4 linked regions of the Homo sapiens genome follow. The protein of the gene in region 4 purifies or fractionates together with the protein of the main gene of each other region. This does not show direct contact. Each region holds a gene or a part of one and is shown on either strand. Other genes may lie near its edges. The genes, in order: PIP5K1A, ZCRB1, CRY1 and YTHDC2.

Region 1 (6,085 bases), on a different chromosome or scaffold from region 4:
CCCGTAAAAAACAACCTAATGCATTGGATAGGAGGCAGTGTGATTTCTTCTTCTTCTTATGTCTTGCTGTCCATGCTGTGCCATTGTCTCACTAACTCATCTAAGAAGGGCTGTGATTATCTTAGGAGGAATGTATTCCCCCACTCCCCCCACCATGAGGTGACTCTGAGTGTCTTCGCAAGGTAGATTCTCTGGATGATAGGGACTGGCAAGTTATGGCTACCTCTGTTTAACCCCACAGTGAAGGGAGCAACCTGACCCCTGCTCATCACTACAATGACTTTCGTTTCAAGACCTATGCACCTGTTGCCTTCCGCTACTTCCGGGAGCTATTTGGTATCCGGCCCGATGATTACTTGGTAAGCATCTGGATATCAGGACACTGTGACTCCAGTATCAGAGGGATATTCCCAAAGGAAGGCCCCTTTTCTCCACAGTCTCGCTCTGGTTTTTATTTAGAAAAGAATTGCATCTGTAGTTGATTTTTGTGTTGGGCAAGGCCCTGATGTGTCTAAATCTCTTAGTTCTTCTCTGTTTGCCCCAGTATTCCCTCTGCAGTGAGCCGCTGATTGAACTCTGTAGCTCTGGAGCTAGTGGTTCCCTATTCTATGTGTCCAGCGACGATGAGTTCATTATTAAGACAGTCCAACATAAAGAGGCGGAATTTCTGCAGAAGCTGCTTCCAGGATACTACATGGTAAGGGAGAGAGAAGCACTGTCCACCTGTGCTGCTCACTTCTGGGCAAGGCTGGGGAGGCTGTCTTCAGCAGGGTAAAACAGTGTCAGCACTTCTATCTTAAGAGTGTAGTTCAGGCCAGGCACGGTGGCTCATGCCTGTAATCCCAGGACTTTGGGAGGCCGAGGCAAGAGGATCACAAGATCAGGAGATCAAGACCATCCTGGCCAACATGGTGAAACCTCGTCTTTACTAAAAATACAAAAAATTAGCCAGGCGTGGTAGCGGGCGCCTGTAGTCCCAGCTACTCAGGAGGCTGAGACAGGAGAATGGCGTGAATCTGGGAGGCGAAGTTTGCAGTGAGCCGAGATCCTGCCACTGCACTCCAGCCTGGGTAACAGAGCAAGACTCCGTCTCAAAAAAAAAAAAAAAAAAATGTTGTTCAGTTTTGTGCTTTTCACCCCATTTCTTTTGCCTCTCTATGGTAAAAGGGGTTTTGTTTATCTGTTCTGTTTTAAGTGTTGTTGATCTCCCAGGCTCAAGTGATCCTCCCACCTCAGCCTCTCACGTAGTTGGGACTAAAGGCACGCACCACCACACCTGGCTAATTTTTATAAACTTATTTTCTTTTATTTTTTCGTGACGGAGTCTCGCTTTGTTGTCCAAGCTGGAGTACAGTTGCACAATCTCGGCTCACTGCAACCTCCGCCTCCCAGGTTCAAGCAATTCTCCTGCCTCAGCCTCCTGAGTAGCTGGGATTACAGGCATGCGCCACCATGCCAAGCTAATTTTTTATTTTTTAGTAGAGATGGAGTTTCACCATGTTGGTCAGGCTGGTCTTGAACTCCTGACCTCATGATCCGCCTGCCTTGGCCTCCCAAAGTGCTGGGATTACAGGCGTGAGCCACCGTGCCCGGCCTAATTTTTATAAATTTTTAGTAGAGATGAGGTCTTGCTATGTTACCCAGGCTGGTCTCAAATTCCTGAGCTCAAGTGATCCTCCTGTTTGGCCTCCCAAAGTGCTGGGGTTACAGGCATGAGCCACTGCACCTGGCTATTTTCGTCTTCTGTTCTTAGTTCAGCTTCTAGTTTGGGGAATGAGGTAGGTTATTTCCCTTGGTAATACTCTCTGCAGCCTTACTCTGATTGCTATTGGAGGTTCTGGAGAAGTTAGGTAACTCTCCTTACCTGCCTTACCATCCCCAAGAATATACTATACCCAGGGCAGAGAGTGTCGTCTTCTCTTAAATCTCTCTGAAGAAATATATCCATCTTATATTGGTATCCTGGCTGATTTCTGTATTGGAGAGTCTGTGGCACAGCTTGATGGTGAACTTACCATTGAAATAGATGCATAGGGAAATGTAAAGCATATATGATGTAGGTTTATGGACACATTGTGTCTAAATCTCATATAGGAGATAAAGGGAGGATGGGTGGTAACTTTTACTGGTGAGTTTCACTGAAAATCAGCTAAGTTGTTCTCCTACTTCTGTTTCCTTTTGTGTTCTCAGAACCTCAACCAGAACCCTCGGACTTTGCTGCCTAAATTCTATGGACTGTACTGTGTGCAGGCAGGTGGCAAGAACATTCGGATTGTGGTGATGAACAATCTTTTACCAAGATCGGTAAAAATGCATATCAAATATGACCTCAAAGGCTCAACCTACAAACGGCGGGCTTCCCAGAAAGAGCGAGAGAAGCCTCTTCCCACATTTAAAGACCTAGACTTCTTACAAGACATCCCTGATGGTCTTTTTTTGGATGCTGACATGTACAACGCTCTCTGTAAGACCCTGCAGCGTGACTGTTTGGTGAGTTTGTTACTTAGACATCAAAAATCTCAGTTACTAAAACAGCTTGATTGTTCTTAGGCATTAAGTTTGTGGGAGATGGAACTCTGTTCCTTAGCACTGTATGTCCTGGGCTGTATTTAAAATAAGTCTTAATTAGTTCATTGCCATTCCTTTACATTTTTACTTTCTCCCCGTTTATCCTCCCACAATGGGATTTATTTCCTTCTCTAGCTAGCCTGGGCCTCACAGTCAAATGTTCTGCTTATTTTCATACCAACATCATCCTTCCTCAGATTTTGGTCCTGGCTGCCAAATCCAAATTTATATTTTGGAAGCTGAGTGCTGCTGAAGAATATTACACAACCGTGTATACTGGCATCTACAGAATTATGATATCCAACCCCACTTGGGCTTTCAATATCGATCTTCAGTCCATTTGCTGTTGCTCTCAATAGGGATTTCAGATGTTTGGCATTCTAATCAAACCATTTTCTGACTCTCATCTCCCTAGCTTTGTTTCTCAACAAGCTACCTTAACTTTTTATCCTATTTCATCCTCTCATGCTGCCCCTGTCACCAATGGATAAATGTATCTACATTTTACTTTATTTTTTATTTTTTGAGATGGAGTTTCACTCTTGTCACCCAGGCTGGAGTGCAATGGCACGATCTCGGCTCACTGCAATTTCCACCTCCCAGATTCAAGCGATTCTCCTGCCTCAGCCTCCCAAGTAGCTGGGATTACAGGCGCCCATCACCACGCCTGGGTCGTTTTTGTATTTTTAGTAGTGACAGGGTTTCACCACGTTGGTCCCGCTGGTTTCAAACTCCTGACCTCAAATGATCTGCCTGCCTTGGCCTCCCAAAGTGCTAGGATTACAGGTGTGAGCCACCGCACCCGGCCTAGATATCACTCTTGACCTCTGTACTCTTCTGTCATGTGAACACTTCCCACTGTTGCACATATTAAACTGTATTGTGTTTATTTTACATTTGTATCCCTTTCTAAATGTATAATGTCCTTGAAGACAGAAACTCTCTCTTTAATATCTTTATATCTCTGTAAGGAGGCACAGTGCCTACATGGTGGAGATTCAGTAAATGTTTAACTGAATTGAAGCTAGTCATACAAGGTCCTACCACAGATCTGTTCTGTCACAAAGTGTACTTTACCAGAACCTCATTGTGGAATCTTCACAGCACAAATATGTATTCCTTGTTCTTTTGAGAAGGTAGTGTTCTCTTCATGGAGACATACATGGAAAGAACAAAGATGGTCTTGTGGGCTAGGCAGTGGGACTTGGAAAAATTATATTAACTCAAATGAGAGAAAGCTAAGGGTATGTAAATAAAGACTAACCAGGCCGGGCGTGGTGGCTCACGCCTGTAATCCCAGCACTTTGGGAGGCTGAGGCAGGCAGATCACCAGGTCAGGCGTTCGAGACCAGCCTGGCCAACATGGTGAAACCCCAACTCTACTAAAAATACAAAAATTAGCTGGGTGTGGTGGCACGTGCCTGTAATCCCAGCTACTTGGGAGGCTGAGGCAGGAAAATCGCTTGAACCAGGGAGTTGGAGGTTGCAGTGAGCCAAGATCGCGCCACTGTACTCCAGCCTGGCGACAAAGCAAGACTCCGTCTCAAAAAAAAAAAAAAAAAAATTTAGCCTTACAGGTTCACTGTAAGGCTAAATTAAATAATTACATCATGAAAGCTGTCAAGCCAGGCGTGGTGGCTCATACCAATAGTCCCAGCACTTTGGAAGACTGAGATAGGCAGATCCCTTGAGCCCAGAAATTAGAGACCAGCTGGGCAGCATGGTGAAACCGTCTCTATGAAAAATAAAAAATTAGGCAGGTGTAGTGGTGTGTGCCTGTAGTCCCAGCTACTTGGGAGGCTGAAGTAGGTGGATATTTTGAGCCTGGGAGGTTGCAGCTACAGTGAGCCGAGATCACACCACTGCACTCTAGCCTGGGTTACAGATTGATACCCTTTCTCAAAAAAACAAAAAAATTGTGAGATCCTGAAAAATATTTTTATTTCTTCCAAGGCTCAGATCATGTTTTTTTCCTTCCATTAGGTGCTGCAGAGCTTCAAGATAATGGATTACAGCCTCTTGATGTCAATCCATAATATAGATCATGCACAACGAGAGCCCTTAAGCAGTGAAACACAGTACTCAGTTGATACTCGAAGACCGGCCCCCCAAAAGGCTCTGTATTCCACAGCCATGGAATCCATCCAGGGAGAGGCTCGACGGGGTGGTACCATGGAGACTGATGACCAGTAAGTGGGCTCAGGGCCACTAGGGGGGAGAACATAGGCCCACAGCACTTTTCTTTTCTTTTTTTTTTTTTTTTTTTTTTAGTTTCACTCTTGTTGCCCAGGCTGATGTGCTGATGTGCAATGGCACGATCTCAGCCTACTACTACCTCCACCTCCTGGGTTCAAGCGATTCTCCTGCTTCAGCCTCCTGAGTAGCTGTGACTACAGGCACCTGCCACCACACCCAGCTAATTTTTTGTATTTTTAGTAGAGAAGGGGTTTCATCATGTTGGGCAAACTAGTCTACGAACTCCTGACCTCAGGTGATCCACCCGCCTTGGCCTCCCGTAGTGCAGGGATTACAGGCGTGAGCCACCGTGCCCGGCCACAGCACTTTTTCTTTAGGAAGGGACCCAGCTTCTGGAAAGGAGTAGCCTTGACTCAGCAGTTGGATCAGTAACATTATTGTTGACAGAAGTATAGAATGAGCTTGAACGAGCTTTCTTAATACAAAATGAAAAGAAGATTAATTTCGGGTTTATAGTATATGTGGGAAGGAGAGCTGTTCAAGAGTTAAAGACTTAAAAAATTATAGTCTTAAATGCATGTCTGCAAATTATATTAGAACTTTATTAGGGCTGGGCACAGTGGCTCATGCCAGTAATCCCAACACTTTGGAAGGCTGAGGCAGGCGGATCACTTGAGTCCAGGAGTTTGAGATCAGCCTGAGCATCATGATGAGACCTCATCACTACAAAAACTCAAAAATTACCTGAGTGTGATGGTGAGCACCTGTGGTCCCAGCTACTCAGGAGGCTGATGAGGCAGAATTGCTTGAGCCCAGGAGGTCAAGGCTGCAGTGAGCCACTGTACATGCCACTGCACTCCAGCTTGGGCAAAAAGAATGGGACCCTGTGTCAAAAAAAAAAAAATTGTTATAGACTTCTTTGTGGAAGGCATCCTTCTTCATCATGCCTAGTAAGTGTAATTACTGAAGTGTCACAAATATCTTAGATTGTTTCATTTTTTTAAGGTATCCTGTAATATGACTCTCAAGAAGAGTGTCTTAGTGGGCATAAATTAAGATAGCAAAAGTACTGAAGAAGTTGAGTTAATTAGGAGAGCATTCCCAAAATTGCTGAGTAGTGGCAATTTTAGATTCTCTTTGGTGGAATCAGAGTGGAAGAGGTAGGCAAGAAGATTTGGAGAAAACTAGATTATAATACATACTGTAGAGAGTTCCTGGGGTTAGAGGAAGGATCTCATTTTCTCCTGTTTTTTTAATGTATTTTTTTCTCTTTTTGTTTTCTTGATCACTTATTATCTGACCTTCTGGTTTATGGAGGATG
Region 2 (4,840 bases), on a different chromosome or scaffold from region 4:
TCCAATGTGTATTTTACCTTTACAGTACGTATCAATTCAGACAAGTTCTCAGTAGCCACATTGGCTGGCTAGTGACTACTGTAATTGGATAGTGCAAGTGTAGTCAGGATATAAAAGGGAAAAAACGGAAGTAATTCATAGGAAAAGTGAGGAAGAAATTTTCCATTTGTTTTTTGGTTTTTTGTTTGTTTTTTGAGACAGGGTCTTGCTCTGTTGCCTAGGCTGGAGTGCGGTGGCACAATCTCAGCTCACTGCAGTCTCTGCCTCCCGCGTTCGATCAATTCTTGTGCCTCAGTCTCCTGAGTAGCTGGGATTACAGGCATATGCCACCAAGCCCAGCTAATTTTTGTATATTTAGTAGAGACAGGGTTTCCCCATGTTGGCCAGGCGGGTCTTGAACTCACTTCCTAAGGTGACCCACCTGCCTCAGCCTGCCCAGCCCAACAGAGTATTAAGCAACATCTTGGAAATTAACAGGAATAGTTTTATCCTCGTTTTATCAATAACTTAAGATGTTTACATTTAGGGTAAATGATCCATTTAAATTTTGATTTTTTTTTTTTGAGACGGAGTTTTGCTCTTGTCACCCAGGCTGGAGTGCAACGGAATGATCTCAGCTCACTGCAACCTCCACCTCCTGGGTTTAAGCAATTCTCCTACCTCAGCCTCCTGAGTAGCTGGGACTACAGGTGTGTGCCACTTATGCCCAACTAATTTTTTTTTTTTTTTTTTTTTTTTTTTTTTTTTTAGTAGAGACGGGATTTCACCATTTTGGTTAGTCTGGTCTCAAACTCCAGACCTCAGGTGATCCACCCACCTCGGCTTCCCAAAGTGCTAGGATTACAGGCGTGAGCCACCGCGCCCGACCAAACTGTTTTATATCTTGAATTTTGAGATTTAAATGTTTGAAAGAAGACTACTACCACTACTCTTAGTAAAACTACTAAATAGTCCTAAATGTTAAAATAACTGAGAGTTATAATATCACCTTCTAAATATTAAAGTACTGGGTTTTATCATTAATGTCTTCTGTATAGTCCCAGTATGGGAATATTCCTTTTTAAATTTGAAAACTTTTTAGTAATAAGGTACCAGGCAAGTTTTTATAAATAACATCAAATATGGTATTTTTCCTTTCCTTTTTAATGGGAAACAAAAGGAAAGTGGACACTTAAGTTATGCCTGTCCGAAAAATATGCTCGGAGAACGTGAGCCTCCAAAGAAGAAAGAAAAAAAGAAAAAAAAGAAAGCTCCTGAACCAGAAGAAGAAATGTATGTATATTATTCTTACTAAATACATCATCATGTTGCTTTTGTCTTTTGGTTGGTTGCTTTTGATTATTGGTTGGTTACATTCCAATTTGTTTTTCTTTATTTAAGTGAGGAAGTAGAAGAAAGTGAAGATGAAGGGGAGGATCCTGCTCTTGACAGCCTCAGTCAGGCCATAGCATTCCAGGTATTAAATTGTTCTTTTAAAAGGCATCATACAATAGTTGACTTGGTTTATAGTGCTTGCTTACTTCATTGATCACCTCATGGCAACCTCTCTTTTTCCCCCTAACCTCCTAAGCCTTAGGAGACAAGCTGTTTCTCTGAGGTACTTAGCCAGTGTGAATGAAAAGTTCCCATTGGTTCTTCCTAGATTTTAAGGGCCCCACAACACTTACTATCTTAATCTTTTTTCATTAAAGAAATGAGCAGAACTATTTGCTCAAAGTGAATATAGCCCAACAGAAAAGATTTTTTTAAGAAATTGCCTAGGATAATTTTGTGTAAGATTTTGAGATGAGACAGAACTCAGGGGAAGGGAGCAGATCTTATTGTCTGCATGGACTGGGAGGGTGGGAAGTAATGGCATTTGTGGTATGTTTTTGCCATGTTTTGAATTAATGAACCATAAATAATATTAAACAGGTTATTGGTTTTGTTTTGTTTTTTGAATCACAGCAAGCCAAAATTGAAGAAGAACAAAAAAAATGGAAACCCAGTTCAGGAGTCCCCTCAACATCAGATGATTCAAGACGCCCAAGGATAAAGAAAAGCACATATTTCAGTGATGAGGAAGAACTTAGTGATTAAAATCTTGCCCCAGCACAGTAATAAAAATCAAGATTTGTTAGTAACAATCTTGAAGAGCTAATTTTAATAAAAATAAGAAAAATTAATACTATCATGTTAATACTATTATTGTCATCCCAAGAAAAAAGATATTTTAAAAATTTATTTGAAAAGTTCATTATAAGGGCTTTATTCATGCCTGATTTGTTTACATGAGGACTTCTGAAATTAATCCTTAAAACAAACTTCCTGAAGACCGAAAAGTTGAATGATTTATTGTTACTTATATTAATAAACTTTTCAAGAGAATTTTGTCTTTAAATATGGGTGTTTTGTCATCATATTTCTTGTAGCTTTATCCCAATCTGGATAAATTGTAAATACCTATAAAATAAATTATAAATACCTATAAAATATAAAGTAACATAGCTCTAAAAGGCTTAAAATCAAACACAGGTGTTATTTGTCTGCCCTACCCATAGCACCAAATTCCATTCCCTAGAAGAAACTACTTACATGTGCACACATGTAGCTAAATAAAGTACATATATTTCAGTCACTTAATAAAAGAATAAAGGAGAATTATTCAATCTCTTATACTTCTCCTACCTTCCTCAATATTCCCAATGTGGCTGTATTAAAAATTTGGGGGAATCCATATATATCTTTTTTAATAACCAAGTAAATACTTTTCATTTCTGAGCCAAGGAATATGCTATGATTACGTTTTTTCCTAGAGTTAATAATTGTCTATTTTTTTTCCATGTATTGTCTTTGTATTTATGACTAAATCTTCCCATTCTGTCTGCAGGTGGGTATATGGTAATGGGATTAGAGAGCCTTTAATTTTCTGCTTTGTATATTTCTATATTGTTTAACTTTGTAAGAATGCCCATTACTTTTTTAACTAGTAAAAGCAATAGAAATAAGTTAATACTATCATAGTAATATTATTATTGTCATCCCAAGAAAAAATATATTAAAAAGATATTTGAAATTTCATTATAAAATCTTGTGTTTCCACTTTGAAAACTACAAAGTGTTAACCACCCACCAGCAAAGAATCTTCCAGATTGCAACAAGACAATGATTGAATGCAGTACTCAACCATCTGTTTGGCCATTAGTCAAATACCACAACAGTTTTGGTTTGTTTTTTTTTTTTAATTTTTATTCATTTATTTATTTTTGAAACGAAGTCTCACTCTGTCGTCCAGGCTGGAGTACAGTGGTGCGATCTCAGCTCACTGCAACCTCCACCTCCCCGGTTCAGACCATTTTCCTGCCTCAGCCTCCTAAGTAGCTGGGATTACAGGCACGTGCCACCACACCCAGCTAATTTTTGTATTTTTTTAGTAGAGTTGGGGGTTTCACCATGTTGGTCAGGCTAGTCTCAAACTCCTGACCTTGTGATCCACCCGCCTCGGCCTCCCAAAGTGCTGGGATTACAGGCATGAGCCACTGTGCCCGGCCTACCATTTTAAAGCAAATAATTGGGAAAAGATTTGCCACAAATATATAAAAGTTTCTATGAATACCTGAAAACAGACTCTAATAGGAAATAAATTAGTGACAAATAGAATAGTTAGAAGATAAAATAGGCCAGGTGTAGTGGCTCATACCTGTAATCCCAACACGTTGGGAGGTCAAGACAGGAGGAGTGTTCGAGGCCAGGAGTTTGAGCCCAGCCTGGGGAACATAAGGAGACTGTCTTTACAAAAAATAACATTAGCCACTCACACCTGTTGTCCTAGCTACTTGGGAGGCTGAGGCGGGACAGCCTGGGAAACAGCATGATCCTGTCTTTAAAAAAAAAAAGTAAAAAAGTTTATCATTACTTATTAAGGAAATCTATTACAACCAGTGATACATCAATTTTAACCTAATTAGGAAAAAAACACTTCAGTGTTGGTGAGGATGGCATTAAAAGCACTTGTGGTATCGCATACATGCCCTGGATCAATTCTGAAGGGTAATTTAACAATAAATATCAAATGTTAAGTATGTTCTATTTTTTTAACTAGAAATTACATTCTATTTTATCCTAGGGTTCTAATCAGAAATGCAGGTATTTATTTATGTACAAACATATTATTTAAAATTCAAAACAATTGTCAGCCGGGCACGGTGGCTCACACCTGTAATCCCAGCATTTTGGGAGGCCAGGGCAGGTGAATCACTTGAGGCCAGGAGTTCGAGACCAGCCTGGCCAACATGGTGAAACCCCATCTGTACTAAAAATGCAAAAATTAGCAAGCCATGGTGACACATGCCTGTAATTCCAGCTACTCAGGAGACTGAGGCACAAGAATCGCTGGAACCAGGGAGGCAGAGGCTGCAGTGAGCCCAGATCGCACCACTGCACTCCAGCCCTGGGTGACAGAGTGAGACTCTGTCTCAAAAAAAGAAAAAAAGAAAAAGAATTGTCAACAGCAAATTAAAGCATGATGCATTCACAATAATAGATTATTAGGAAGCATTAAAATGTTTCAAAGAATTTTTAATTGTATGAGAAAACATTCCAGATACAATGTCAAGTGTAAAACACTTGCTATATATGGATACATATCTGCATATGGAAGGGGGAAATGCTCACTGCTAAAGTAGCAGTGCAGAATGGTTAAGAGTATGCTCTTTTTTTTGACAGATACACTTAGGTTTCTATGGCCATATTGCCACTTAAAGCTGCTGATCGTAGACGATTTACTTAACCTGAGTTATATGAAAACTAAGAAGGTTAAAGCAACACAGAAGGACAAATATTGTATGATACCACTTACATG
Region 3 (6,085 bases), on a different chromosome or scaffold from region 4:
CCGGGCTAAAGCAATTCTCCTGCCTCAGCCTCTGAAAGTGCTGGGATTATAGGTGTAAGCCACCATGCCCACCCTCTTTTTTCTATTGTAAGATATAATCATCTCTTTCAAAGTCCCCAGAAATCTTAACTAGTTTCAACATCAACTCAAAGTCTAAAATCTTATCCGAGACTCAAGGCAGATTCCTTATAGCTATGAACCTGTAAGATCAAAAACAAGTTATCTACTTTTAAGATACAATGGTGGAACAGACATTGGGTAAATATTTTCATTTTAAAAGGGACAAATTGACCAACAAAAAGGGACCCACCCAAGTCTGAAACCTACAAGGGCAGACATTAAATCTTAAAGCTGTAAAATAATCTCGCTTGACTCTTGTCCCATAACTGAGCACACTGGTCCAAGAGGTGGGCTCTTGAAGCCTTGGGCAGCCCCATCTCTATGGCTTGGTTGGGCACAGACCACATGGCTTCTTTCATGGATTGGAGTCTAATGTCTGTCACTTCTCCAGGCTGAGGGTGTGTGCTGTTTTCATCCAAAGGATTCTTTTAATCTTTCCACTTCCTCACTTTCCACTCCCTCCCACATCCTGAGCACACTGGTCCAAGAGGTGAGCTCTCAAAACCTTGGGCAGCTGCATCTCTATGGCTTGGTTGGGCATAGCCCACATGGCTGCTCTCATGGATTGGAGTCTAATGTCTGTCACTTTTCCAGGCTGAGGGTGTATGCTGTTTACATCCAAAGGATACTTTTAATCTTTCCACTCCCTGACTTTTCTTTTCCTTTTCTTTTTTTCTTTTCTCTTTTCTTTTCCTTTCTTTCTTTTTCTTTCTTTCTTTGTTTCTTTCTTTTTCTTTTTCTTAACAGTATTTAACACATTTGACCACACCTTTCTCTTCTTCTCTTGGCTTTAGTTAGACTGCCACCACTGTGGGTCCTGGAGGGCAGTGCCCCTGTTCCCGCTGCTCTACAGTGAGTTCTCTGTGGGGACTGTAACCCCATATTTCCCCTTGGCACCAGCCTAGTAGAATCTCTCTGTAGGAGCTCTGCTGTGGCAGGCTTCTGCCTGGACAGCCAGACTTCTTGACATATCTTGTGAAATCTAGGTGGAAGCTGCCAAACCTCCATGGATCTTGTATTCTGTATACCTGCAGACTTAACACCACTTGGAAACCATCAAGGCCTATGGTTTGCACCCACTGGAGTGGCAGTCCAGACAGTACCTGGGGCCTTTTGAGCCCTGGCTGCAGCCAGAGCAGCCAGAACGTGGGGAGTAGCATCTCAAGACCGCACAAGGCAGCAACACCCTGGGCCTGGCCTCCCAAACCATTTTGCCCGAGGAGGCCTCTGAGCCTGTGATGGAAGGGGTAGCCTTGATTTCTGGAATGTCTTGGGGGCTTTTCCCCATTGTCTTGACTGTTAACAACTGGCTCTCTTTTATTCATGTTAATTGCTTTAACAACCTGTTCTGTCAGGGCCTGGTACCTGGGGCTAGGTAGTTTGGATTTCTCTCCTGAAAACTTCCCTCTACCACATGGTTAGGTTGTAAATTTTTCAAATTTGTATGCTCTGTTTTTCTCTTAATTATTAGCTTTAACTTTGTCTTTTTTTTGAACTCCCATATCTGATAGTAGGCTGTTAGAAGCAGCCATGTCACCTTTTGAACGCTTTGTTGTTTAGAAACTTTTTTTTGCCAGGTAGCTTAAGTCATTACTCTTAAGTTCAGCCTTTTACAAAGTCCTAGGCATGGATACAATGTAGCCAAGTTTTTTGTTAACAAGCATAACATATAATGTGGCCATTTTTTTGTTTTAGTTTTTAAAAATTTTATTTGAGATCTCATGAACGTGGCCTTTACTGTCTATATTTTAATCAGCATTTTTATCACAACCTCTTAACCAGTCTCTAAAAAGTTTTAAAGTTTTTCTTGTGTATGAGGTTTTTTGTTTTTGTTTTGTTTTGTTTTGAGTTCTCTAAGCTCTTGTAAGCAGCTTTAGTTTTTGCTTTTTTTTTAATACTTTAAGTTCTGGGATACATGTACAGAACCTGCAGGTTTGTTACGTAGGTATACATGTGCCATGGTGGTTTTGCTGCACCCATCAACCTGTCATCTAGGTTTTAAGCCCCACATGCATTAGGTATTTGTCCTAATGGTCTCCATCCCCTTGCCCCTCAACCCCTGGCAGGCCCCGGTATGTGCTGTTCCCCTCCCCGTGTCCATGTGTTCTCATTGTTCAACTCCTACTTATGGAGAACATGCGATGTTTGGTTTTCTGTTCCTATGTTAGTTTGCTGAGAATGATGCTTTCCAGCTTCATCCATGTCCCTGCAAAGGACATGAACTCATTCTTTTTTATGGCTGCTTCATATTCCACAGTGTATATGTGCCAGATTTTCTTTATCCAGTCTATCATTGATGGGCATTTGGGTTGGTTCCAAGTCTTTGCTATTGTGAACAGTGCCACAATAAACATACATGTGCCTGTGTCATTATAGTAGAATGATTTATAATCCTTTGGGTATATACCCAGTAATGGGATTGCTGGGTCAAATGATATTTCTGTTTGTAGATCCTTGAGGAATCACCACACTGTCTTCCATAATGGTTGACCTAATTTACACTCCCACCAACAGTGTAAAAGCGTTCCTATTTCTTCACATCCTCTCCAGCATCTGTTGTTTCCTGACTTTTAATAATCGCTGTTCTAACTGGCATGAAATGGTATCTCATTGTGGTTTTGATTTGCATTTCTCTAATGACCAGTGATGATGAGCTTTTTTTTCATGTTTTTTGGCCACATAAATGTCTTTTGAGAAGTGTCTGTTCATATCCTTCACCCACTTTTTGATGGGTTTTTTTTTTTTTGTAAATTTGTTTAAGTTCCTTGTAGATTTTAGATATTAGACCTTTGTCAGATGGATAGATTGCAAAAATTTTCTCCCATTCTATAGGTTGTCTGTTCACTCTGATGATGGTTTCTTTCACTGTGCAGAAACTCTTTAGTTTAATTAGATCCCATTTGTCAAGTTTGGCTTTTGTTGCCATTGCTTTTGGTGTTTTAGTCATGAAGTCTTTGCCCATGCCTATGTCCTGAATGGTATTGCCTAGGTTTTCTTCTAGGGTTTTTATGGTTTTAGGTTTTACATGTAAGTCTTTAATTCGTCTTGAGTGAATTTTTGTATACAGTGTAAGGAAGGGGTCCAGTTTCAGTTTTCTGCATATGGCTAGCCAGTTTTCCCAGCACCATTTATTAAATAGGGAATCCTTTCCCCATTTCTTGTTTTTGTCAAGATCAGATGGTTGTAGGTGTGTGGTGTTATTTCTGAGGCCTCTGTTCTGTTCCACTGGTCTATGTATCTGTTTTGGTACCAGTACCATGCTATTTTGGTTACTGTAGCCTTGTAGTATAGTTTGAAGTCAGGTAGCATGATGCTTCCAGCTTTGTTCTTTTTGCTTAGGATTGTCTTGGCTATACAGGCTCTTTTTTTGGTTCCATATGAAATTTAAAGTAGTTGTTTCTAGTTCTGTGAAGAAAGTCAATGGTAACTTGATGGGAATAGCATTGAATCTATTAATTACTTTGGGCAGTATGGCCATTTTCATGATGCTGATTCTTCCTATCCATGAGCATGGAATGTTTTTCCATTTGTTTGTGTCCTCTCTTATTTCTTTGAGCAGTGGTTTGTAGTTCTCCTTGAAGAGGTCCTTCACATCCCTTGTAAGTTGGATTCCTAGGTATTTTATTTTCTTTGTAGCAGTTGTGAATGGGAGTTCATTCGTGACTTGACTCTCTATTATTGGTGTATAGGAATGCTTGTGATTTTTGCTGATTGATTTTGTATCCCGAGACTTTGCTGAAGTTGCTTATCAGCTTAAGGAGTTTTGGGGCTGAGGCAATGGAATTTTCTAAATATACAATCATGTCATCTGCAAACAAAGACAATTTGACTTTCTTTCTATTTGAATACCCTTTATTTCTTTCTCTTGCCTGATTGCCCTGGCCAGAATTTCCAATACTATGTTGAATAGGAGTGGTGAGAGAGGGCATCCTTGTTTTGTGCCAGTTTTCAATGGGAATGCTTCCAGCTTTTGCCCATTCAGTATGATATTGGCTATGGGTTTGTCATAAATAGCTCTTATTATTCTGAGTAACGTTCCATCAATACCTAGTTTATTGAGAGTTTTTAGCATGAAGCGGTGTTGAATTTTGTCCAAGGCCTTTTCTGCATCTATTGAGATAATTGTGTGGTTTTTGTCATTGGTTCTGTTTATATGATGGATTACATTTATTGATTTGCATATGGTGAACCAGCCTTACATCCCAGGGATGAAGCTGCCTTGATCGTGTGGATAAGCTTTTTGATGTGCTGCTAGATTCGGTTTGCCAGTATTTTATTGAGTATTTTCATATTGATGTTCATTGGGGATATTGACCTGAAATTTTCTTTTTTTGTTGTGTCTGCCAGGTTTTGGTATCAGAATGATGTTGGCCTCATATAAAATGAGTTAGGGAGCAGTCCGTCTTTTTCTTTTGTTTGGAATAATTTCAGAAGGAATGGTACCAGCTCCTCTTTGTACCTCTGGTAGAATTTGGCTGTGAATCCATCTAGTCCTGGGCTTTTTTTGGTTGGTAGGCTACTAATTACTGCCTCAATTTCAGAACTTGTTATTGGTGTATTCAGGGATGTGACTTCTTCCTGGTTTAGTCTTGGGAGAGTGTATGTGTCCAGGAATTTATCCATTTCTTCTAGATTTTTTAGTTTATTTGCATAGAGGTGTTTATAGTATTCTCTGATAGTAGTTTGTACTTCTGAGGGATCAGTGGTGATATCCCTTTATCATTTTTTATTGTGTCTATCTGATTCTTCTCTCTTTTATTTATTAGTCTGTCTAGCAGTCTATCAATTTTGTTAATCTTTTCAAAAAACCAGCTCCTGGATTCATTGATTTTTTTGAAGGGTTTTTCGTGTCTCTGTCTCCTTCAGTTTTGCTCCGATCTTAGTTATTTCTTGTCTTCTGCTAGCTTTTGAATTTGTTTGCTTTTGCTTCTGTAGTTCTTTTAATTGTGATGTTAGGGTGTCGATTTTAGATCTTTCTTGCTTTCTGATATGGACATTTAGTGCTATAAATTTCCCTCTTAACACTGCTTTAGCTGTGTCCCAGAGATTCTGGTATGTTATCTCTTTGTTCTCATTGGTGTCAAAGAACTTACTTACTTCTGCCTTAATTTCTTTATTTACCCAGTAGTCACTCAGGAGCAGATTGTTCAGTTTCCATGTAGTTGTGTGGTTTTGAGTGAGTTTCTTAATCCTGAATTCGAATTTGATTGCACTGTGGTCTGAGAGACTGTTTGTTATGATTTCCGTTATTTGCATTTGCTGAGGAGTGTTTTACTTCCAATTATTGGTCAATTTTAGAATAAGTGCTATGTGGTGTGAGAAGAATGTATATTCTGTTGATTTGGGGTAGAGAGTTCTGTAGATGTCTACTAGGTCTGCTTGGTCCGGAGTTGAGTTCAAGTCCTGAATATCCTTCTTAATTTTCTGTCTCATTGATCTAATATTGACAGTGGGGTGTTAAAGTCTCCCACTATTATTGTGTGGGAGTCTAAGTCTCTTTGTAGGTCTCCGAGAACTTGCTTTATGAATCTGGGTGCTCTTGTTTTGGGTGCATATATATATTTAAGATAATTTGCTCTTCTTGTTACATTGATCCATTTACCATTGTGTAATGCCCTTCTTTGTCTTTTTTTATCTTTTTTGGTTTAAAGTCTGTTTTATCAGAGACTAGGATTGCAACCCCTAAGCAGCTTTAGTTTTAAAGCTGCTTTTATGTTTTTAGATATCTTTATAGCAACACCCCATTCCTGGTACCAGTTTTTTGTGTTTGTCTGTCCCCATGACTCAGATACCTCTTGCTAGGCTCCATCTGCAGTATTAGAGATCAAGTTTTAACATGGGATTTGAAGGGGACAAATATGTAAACTATATCAGGCACTAATCCCTCTCATGACAGTACAATGCATATGACCAAATAACTTCCTAAATGCCCCACCTCTTAATACTGTAGCATTGAGGATTAGGT
Region 4 (6,085 bases):
CTTTTTAATGTTATATTTTTTCTACATGTTTACATATTTTAAATTATTTCACCCAAACTGTTATTTTATATTTTGTTATTTTCATTACAGAGATATCAAAAATATTTTTAGTATTTTATATTAATGACTGCAAAATAGTATATCACATTGAAGTGGCATAATGCATTTTTTTCCTTCAACTTTTATTTTAAGTTCAGGGGTACATGTGCAAGATGTGCAGTTTTGTTGCATAGGTAAAGGTGTGCCATGGTGGTTTGCTGCACAGATCATGACATCATGTATCTATCAAGCCCAGTGTCCATTAGCTATTCTTCCTGATGTTCTCCCTACCCTCTACCACACACCCCCAGTAGGCCCCAGTGTGTGTTGTTCCCCTGTCTGTGTCCATGTGTTCTCATCATTCAGCTCCCACTTATAAGTGAGAACATGCGGTGTTTGGTTTTCCATTCCTGCATTAGTTTGCTGAGGATAATGGCTTCCAACTTCAGCCATGTCCCTGCAAAGGACATGATCTAATTCCTTTTTATGGCTGCATAGTATCCCATGGTGTATATGTACCATATTTTCTTTATCTAGCCTACCATTGATGGGCATTTGGGTTGATTCCATGTCTTTACTATTGTGAATAATGCTGCACTGAACATACAAATGTACTTATCTTTATAATAGAATGATTTATATTCCTTTGGGTATTTACCCAGAAATGGTATTTCTGCCTCCAGGTCTTTGAAGAATCACCATGCTGTCTCCCATGGTGGTTGAATTAATTTACACTAGTGTAATTTAATTACACAGTAGTGTAAAAGTGTTCCTTTTTCTCTACAACCTCACCAGCATGTTGTTTTTTGACTTTTTAATAATAGCAATTCTGATCTCATTGTGGTTTTGAATTGCATTCCAGTAATGATCAGTGACGTTGAGCTTTTTTTCATATGTTTGTTGGCCACATGTACATCTTTTGAAAAGTGTCTGTTCGTGTCCTTTGCCCACTTTTTAATGGGTTGTTTTTTCTTGTAAATTTGCTTAAGTTCCTTGTATACTCTGGATATTAGACCTTTGTCAGATGGATAGATTGCAAAAATTTTCTCCCATTCTGTAGGTTGTCTGTTTCCTCTGATGATAGTTGTTTCTTTTGCTGTGCAGAAACTTTAGTTTAATTAGATCCCATTTGTCAATTTTTGCTTTTGCTGCAATTGCTTTTGGCGTTTTTATCATGAAATCTTTGCCTGTGCCTATGTCCTGAATGGTATTGCCTAGATTTTCTTCGAGGGTTTTTATGGTTTAGAGTTTTACATTTAAGTCTTTAATCCATCTTGAGTTAATTTTTGTCGAAGGTGTTAGGAAGGGGCCCAGTTTCAGTTTTCTGCATATAGCTAACCAGTTCTTTCAGCACCATTTGTTAAATAAGGAGTCCTTTCCTCATTGCTTGTTTTTGTCAGGTTTGTTAAAAATCAGACGGTTGTAAGTGTGTGGTCTTATTTCTGAGTTCTCTATTCTGTTCCATCATTCTATGTGTTTGTTCTTATACCAGTACCATGCTGTCTTGGCTACTGTAGCCCTGTAGTATAGCTTGAAGTCGGGTAGCGTGATGCCTCAGCTTTGTTCTTTTTGCTTAGGATTGTCTTGGCTATATGGTCTCTTTTGGTTCCATAAGAATTTTGAAATCGTTTCTTCTAAGTCTGTGAAGACTGTCAGTATAATGGGAATAGCATTGAATCTGTAAATTTCTCTGGGCAGTATGGCCATTTTCATGATATTGATTGTTCCTATCCATGAGCATGGAACGTTTTTCCATTTGTTTATGTCCTCTCTGATTTCTTTGAGCAGTGATACGTAGTTCTCCTTGAAGAGGTCCTTCACTTCCCTTATTAGCTGTATTCCTAGGTATTTTATTTTACTTTATTTTATTTTATTTCATTTTTTTGAGATGGAGTCTTGCTCTGTCACCCAGGCTGGAGTGCAGTGGCACAATCTCAGCTCACTGTAACCTCCGCCTCCTGGGTTCAAGCAATTCTCCTGCCTGAGACTCCTGAGTAGCTGGGATTACAGGCACGCACCACAATTCCTGGCTAATTTTTGTATTTTTACTAGAGACAGGGTCTCACCATGTTGGGCAGGGTGATCTTGAACTCCAGACCTCAAGGTGATCCATCTGCCTGCCTTGGCCTCCCAAAGTGCTGCAATTACAGGCGTGAGCTATCATGCTTGGCCTTTTCCTATGTATTTTATTTTTGTTGCAATTGTGAATGTGAATTCATTCATGATTTGGCTCTCTGCTTGCCTGTTGTTGGTATATAGGAATGCTAGCAATTTTTGCACATTGATTTTATATCCTGAGACTTTGCTGAAGTTGCTTATCAGCTTAAGAAGCTTTTGGACTGAGATAATGGGTTTTCTAGATGTAGATCATATCAACTACAAACAAAGATAATTTGACTTCCTCTTTTCCTATTTGAATACTCTTTATTTCTTTATTTTGAGATGGAGTCTCACTTTGCCGCCCAGGTTGGAGTGCAGCGGTGTGATCTCAGCTCACTGCAACCTCCGCCTTCTGGGTTCAAGCAATTCTGCTGCCTCAGCCTCCGGAGTAGCTGGGATTACAGACGTCTGCCACCATACTCCACTAATTTTTTTTGTATTTTTAGTAGATTTGGCATTTCACCATGTTGGCCAGGCAGGTCTCAAACTCCTGACTTCAAGTGATCTACCACCTCGGCCTCCCAATGTGCTGGGATTATAGGCATGAGCCACTGCACCCACCCGACGTGAATACTCTTCATTTTTTTCTCTGGCCTGATTTCCTTGGCCTGAACTTCCAATCCTATGTTGAATAAGAGTGATGAGAGAGGACATCCTTGTACTGTGACAGTTTTCAAGGAGAATGCTTCCTGCTTTTGCCCATTCAGTATGATACTGGCTGTGGGTTTGTCATAAATAGCTCTTATTATTTTGAGATATGTTCCTTTACTACCTAGTTTATTGAGTTTTTAACACGAAGACATGTTGAATTTTATTGAAGGCCTTTTCTGCATCTATTGAGATAATCATTTGGTTTTTGTCTTTAGATCTGTTTATGTGATGAATTATGTTTATTGATTTGCATATGTTGAACCAGCCTTGCATCCCAGGGATGAAGCCAACTTGATTGTGGTGGACAAGCATTTAGATGTGCTGCTGTATTTGGTTTGCCCATATTTTATTGAGAATTTTTGCACTGATATTCATCAGGGATATTGGCCTGAAGTTTTCTTTTTTGTTGTATCTCTGTCAGGCTTTGGTATCAGTATGATGCTGGTCTTACAGTATGAGTTATGGAGGAGTCCCTCCTTTTCAGTTGTTTGGAATAGTTTCAAAAGAAAGGGTATCAGCTCTTCTATGTACTTCTGGTAGAATTCAGCTGTAAATCCATCTGGTTGGGCTTTTTTGGTTGGTAGGCTCTTTATTACTGCCTCAATTTCCAAACTTGTTATTGGTCTATTCAGGGATTCAGCTTCTTTCTGGTTCAGTCTCAGGAGTATGTATGTGTCCAGGAATCTACCTCTTTCTTCTAGATTTTCTAGTTTATTTGCATAGAGGTGTTTATAGTATCCTTTGATGGTAGTTTGTATTCCCATGGGGTCAGTGGTGAGATCCCTTGTATCATTTTTATTGTGTCTATTTGATTCTTCTCTCTTTTCTTCTTTATTAATCTAGCTAGCAGTCTGTTTTATTGATTTTTAAAAAGAACCAGCTTTTTGATTTGCTGATTTTTTTGGAGGGTTTTTCCTGTCTCTATCGCCTTCACTTCTGCTCTGATATTAGTTATTTCATGTCTTCTGCTAGCTTGGGTTTGTTTTCTCTTTGTTCTCTAATTTTTTAAATTGAGATGTTAGGTGGTTAACTTGAAATCTTTCTAGCTTTCTGATGTGTTCATTTAGTGCTATGAATTTCCGTCTTAACACTACTTTAGCTGTGTCCCAGAGATTGTGGTACATTGTCTCTTTGTTCTCATTACTTTCAAATAACTTCTTGATTTCTGCCTTAATTTTGTTATTTACCCAAGAGTCATTCAGGAGCAGGTTGTTCAGTTTCCATGTAGTTGTGTGGTATTGAGTGAATGTCTTAGTCTTGAGTTCTAATTTGATTGTGCTGTGGTCTGATAGACTGTTATGATTTTACTTCTTTTACATTTACTGAGGAGTGTTTTACTTCCAGTTATGTGATCAATTTTAGAATAAATGCCATGTGGCGATGAGAAGAATGTATATTCTCTTGTTTTTGGGTAGAGAGTTCTGTAGATATCTATCAGGTCCACTTGATCCAGAGCTGAGTTCAGGTCCTGAATATCTTTGTTAATTTTCTGTCTTGATGATCTGTCTAATGTTGTCTGTGGGGTGTTAAAGTCTCCCACTATTATTGTATGGGAGTCTAAATCTCTTTGTAGGTCTCTAAGAACTTGTTTAATGAATCTGGGTGCTCCTGTATTAGCTTGCATATATATTTAGGATCATGAGTTCTTTTTGTTGAATTGAGCCCTTTACCACTGTGTAATGCCTTTCTTTGATCTTTATGGTTTAAAGTCTGTTTTATCAGAAACTAGGATTGCAACCACTGCCTTTTTCTGTTTTCCATTTGCTTGGTAAATTTTCCTCCATCCCTTTCTTTTGAGCCTATGTGTGGCTTTGCATGTGAGATGGGTCTTTTGAAGACAGCATACTCGTGGGTCTTGGCTCTTTATCCAGTTTGCCATTCTGTGCCTTTCACTTGGGACATTTACCCCATTTACCTTCAATATTACTTTTATGGTTATGTATTGTTATGTGTGAATTTGATTCTGTCATGATGCTAGCTGGTTATTTTGCAGACTTGTTTATGTGGTTGCTTCATAGTGTTACTGGTTTGTGTACTTCCGTGTGTTTTTGTAGTGGCTGGTAATGGATTTTTCCCTTTCATATTTAGTGCTTCCTTCAGGAGCTCTTGCAAGGCAGGCCTGGTGGTGACATATTCCCTCAGCATTTGCTTGTCTGAAAAGGATCTTATTTCTCCTTCACTTATAAAGCTCAGTTTGGCTGGATATGAAATTCTGGGTTGGAAATTCTTTTCTTTAAGAGTGTTGAATATTGGCCCCCAATCTCTTCTGGCTTGTAGGGTTTCCTCTTAGAGGTCTACTGTTAGTCTGATGGGCTTCCCTTTGTATGTAACCTGGCCTTTCTCTCTGGCTGCCCTTAACATTTTTTCTTTCCTTTAGACCTTGGAGAATCTGATGATTTTTTTGTCTTGGGGTTGATCTTCTCATGGAGTATTATACTAGGGTTCTCTGGATTTCCTGAATTTGAATGTTGGCCTGTCTTGCTAGGTTAGGGAAGTTCTGGATGATATCCTGAAGTATGTTTTCCAGCTTGGTTCTATTCTCTTTTATCTTTCAGCTACCCCAGTCAGTTATAGGTTCAGCCTCTTTATATAATCCCATATTTCTTGGAGGTTTTGTTCATTTCTTTTTTCATTCTTTTTTCTCTATTCTTGTCTGCCTGTTTTATGTCAGAAAGACGGTCTTCAAGCTCTGAGATTCTATTCTCTGCTTGGTCTGTGCTTCTGTTGATACTTGTGATTGCATTGTGAAGTTCTCCTGTTGTGTTTTTCAGCTCCGTTAGGTCGGTTATGTTCTTCTCTAAACTGGCTATTAGCTCCCGTATTGTTTTATCATGATTCTTAGCTTTTTTGCATTGGGTTACAATATGCTTCTTTAGCTCAGCGAAGTTTGTTATTACCCACCTTCTGAAGCCTACTTCTGTCATTTTAGCCATCTCAGCCTCAGCCCAGTTCTGTGCCCTTGCTAGAGAGGTATCACAATCATTTGGAGGAGAAGAGGCACTCTGGCTTTTTGAGTTTTCAGCATCTTTGCATTATTTCTCACCTTTGCGGGCTTATCTACCTTTGATCTTTGAGGATGCTGACCTTTGAATGAGGTTTTTGTGGAGTCTTTTCTGTTGATGTTGTTGTTGTTTTCTGTTTGTTTTTCTTTTAGAGTCAGGCCAGTCTTCCATAGGGCTGCTGCGGTTTGCTGGGGCTCCCCACCAGACCTCAGTTGCCTCAGTTTTTCCTGTAC

What was found.
Region 1: the proteins of YTHDC2 (region 4) and PIP5K1A purify together in Homo sapiens (co-immunoprecipitation; one large-scale study listed by IntAct). This does not show direct contact.
Region 2: the proteins of YTHDC2 (region 4) and ZCRB1 purify together in Homo sapiens (co-immunoprecipitation; one large-scale study listed by IntAct). This does not show direct contact.
Region 3: the proteins of YTHDC2 (region 4) and CRY1 purify together in Homo sapiens (co-immunoprecipitation; one large-scale study listed by IntAct). This does not show direct contact.

The regions. Positions count from the first base shown.
Region 1 is NC_000001.11:151,232,007-151,238,091, forward strand, and holds part of PIP5K1A (phosphatidylinositol 4-phosphate 5-kinase type-1 alpha), read left to right. Parts: intron 1-241; coding exon 242-359; intron 360-544; coding exon 545-697; intron 698-2,190; coding exon 2,191-2,490; intron 2,491-4,551; coding exon 4,552-4,757; intron 4,758-6,085. UniProt on the Homo sapiens protein: Catalyzes the phosphorylation of phosphatidylinositol 4-phosphate (PtdIns(4)P/PI4P) to form phosphatidylinositol 4,5-bisphosphate (PtdIns(4,5)P2/PIP2), a lipid second messenger that regulates several cellular processes such as signal transduction, vesicle trafficking, actin cytoskeleton dynamics, cell adhesion, and cell motility.
Region 2 is NC_000012.12:42,310,306-42,315,145, reverse strand, and holds the end of ZCRB1 (zinc finger CCHC-type and RNA-binding motif-containing protein 1), read left to right. Parts: intron 1-1,159; coding exon 1,160-1,272; intron 1,273-1,380; coding exon 1,381-1,456; intron 1,457-1,947; coding exon 1,948-2,079; 3' UTR 2,080-3,060; downstream 3,061-4,840.
Region 3 is NC_000012.12:107,081,755-107,087,839, reverse strand, and holds part of CRY1 (cryptochrome-1), read left to right. Parts: intron 1-6,085.
Region 4 is NC_000005.10:113,568,191-113,574,275, forward strand, and holds part of YTHDC2 (3'-5' RNA helicase YTHDC2), read left to right. Parts: intron 1-6,085. UniProt on the Homo sapiens protein: 3'-5' RNA helicase that plays a key role in the male and female germline by promoting transition from mitotic to meiotic divisions in stem cells.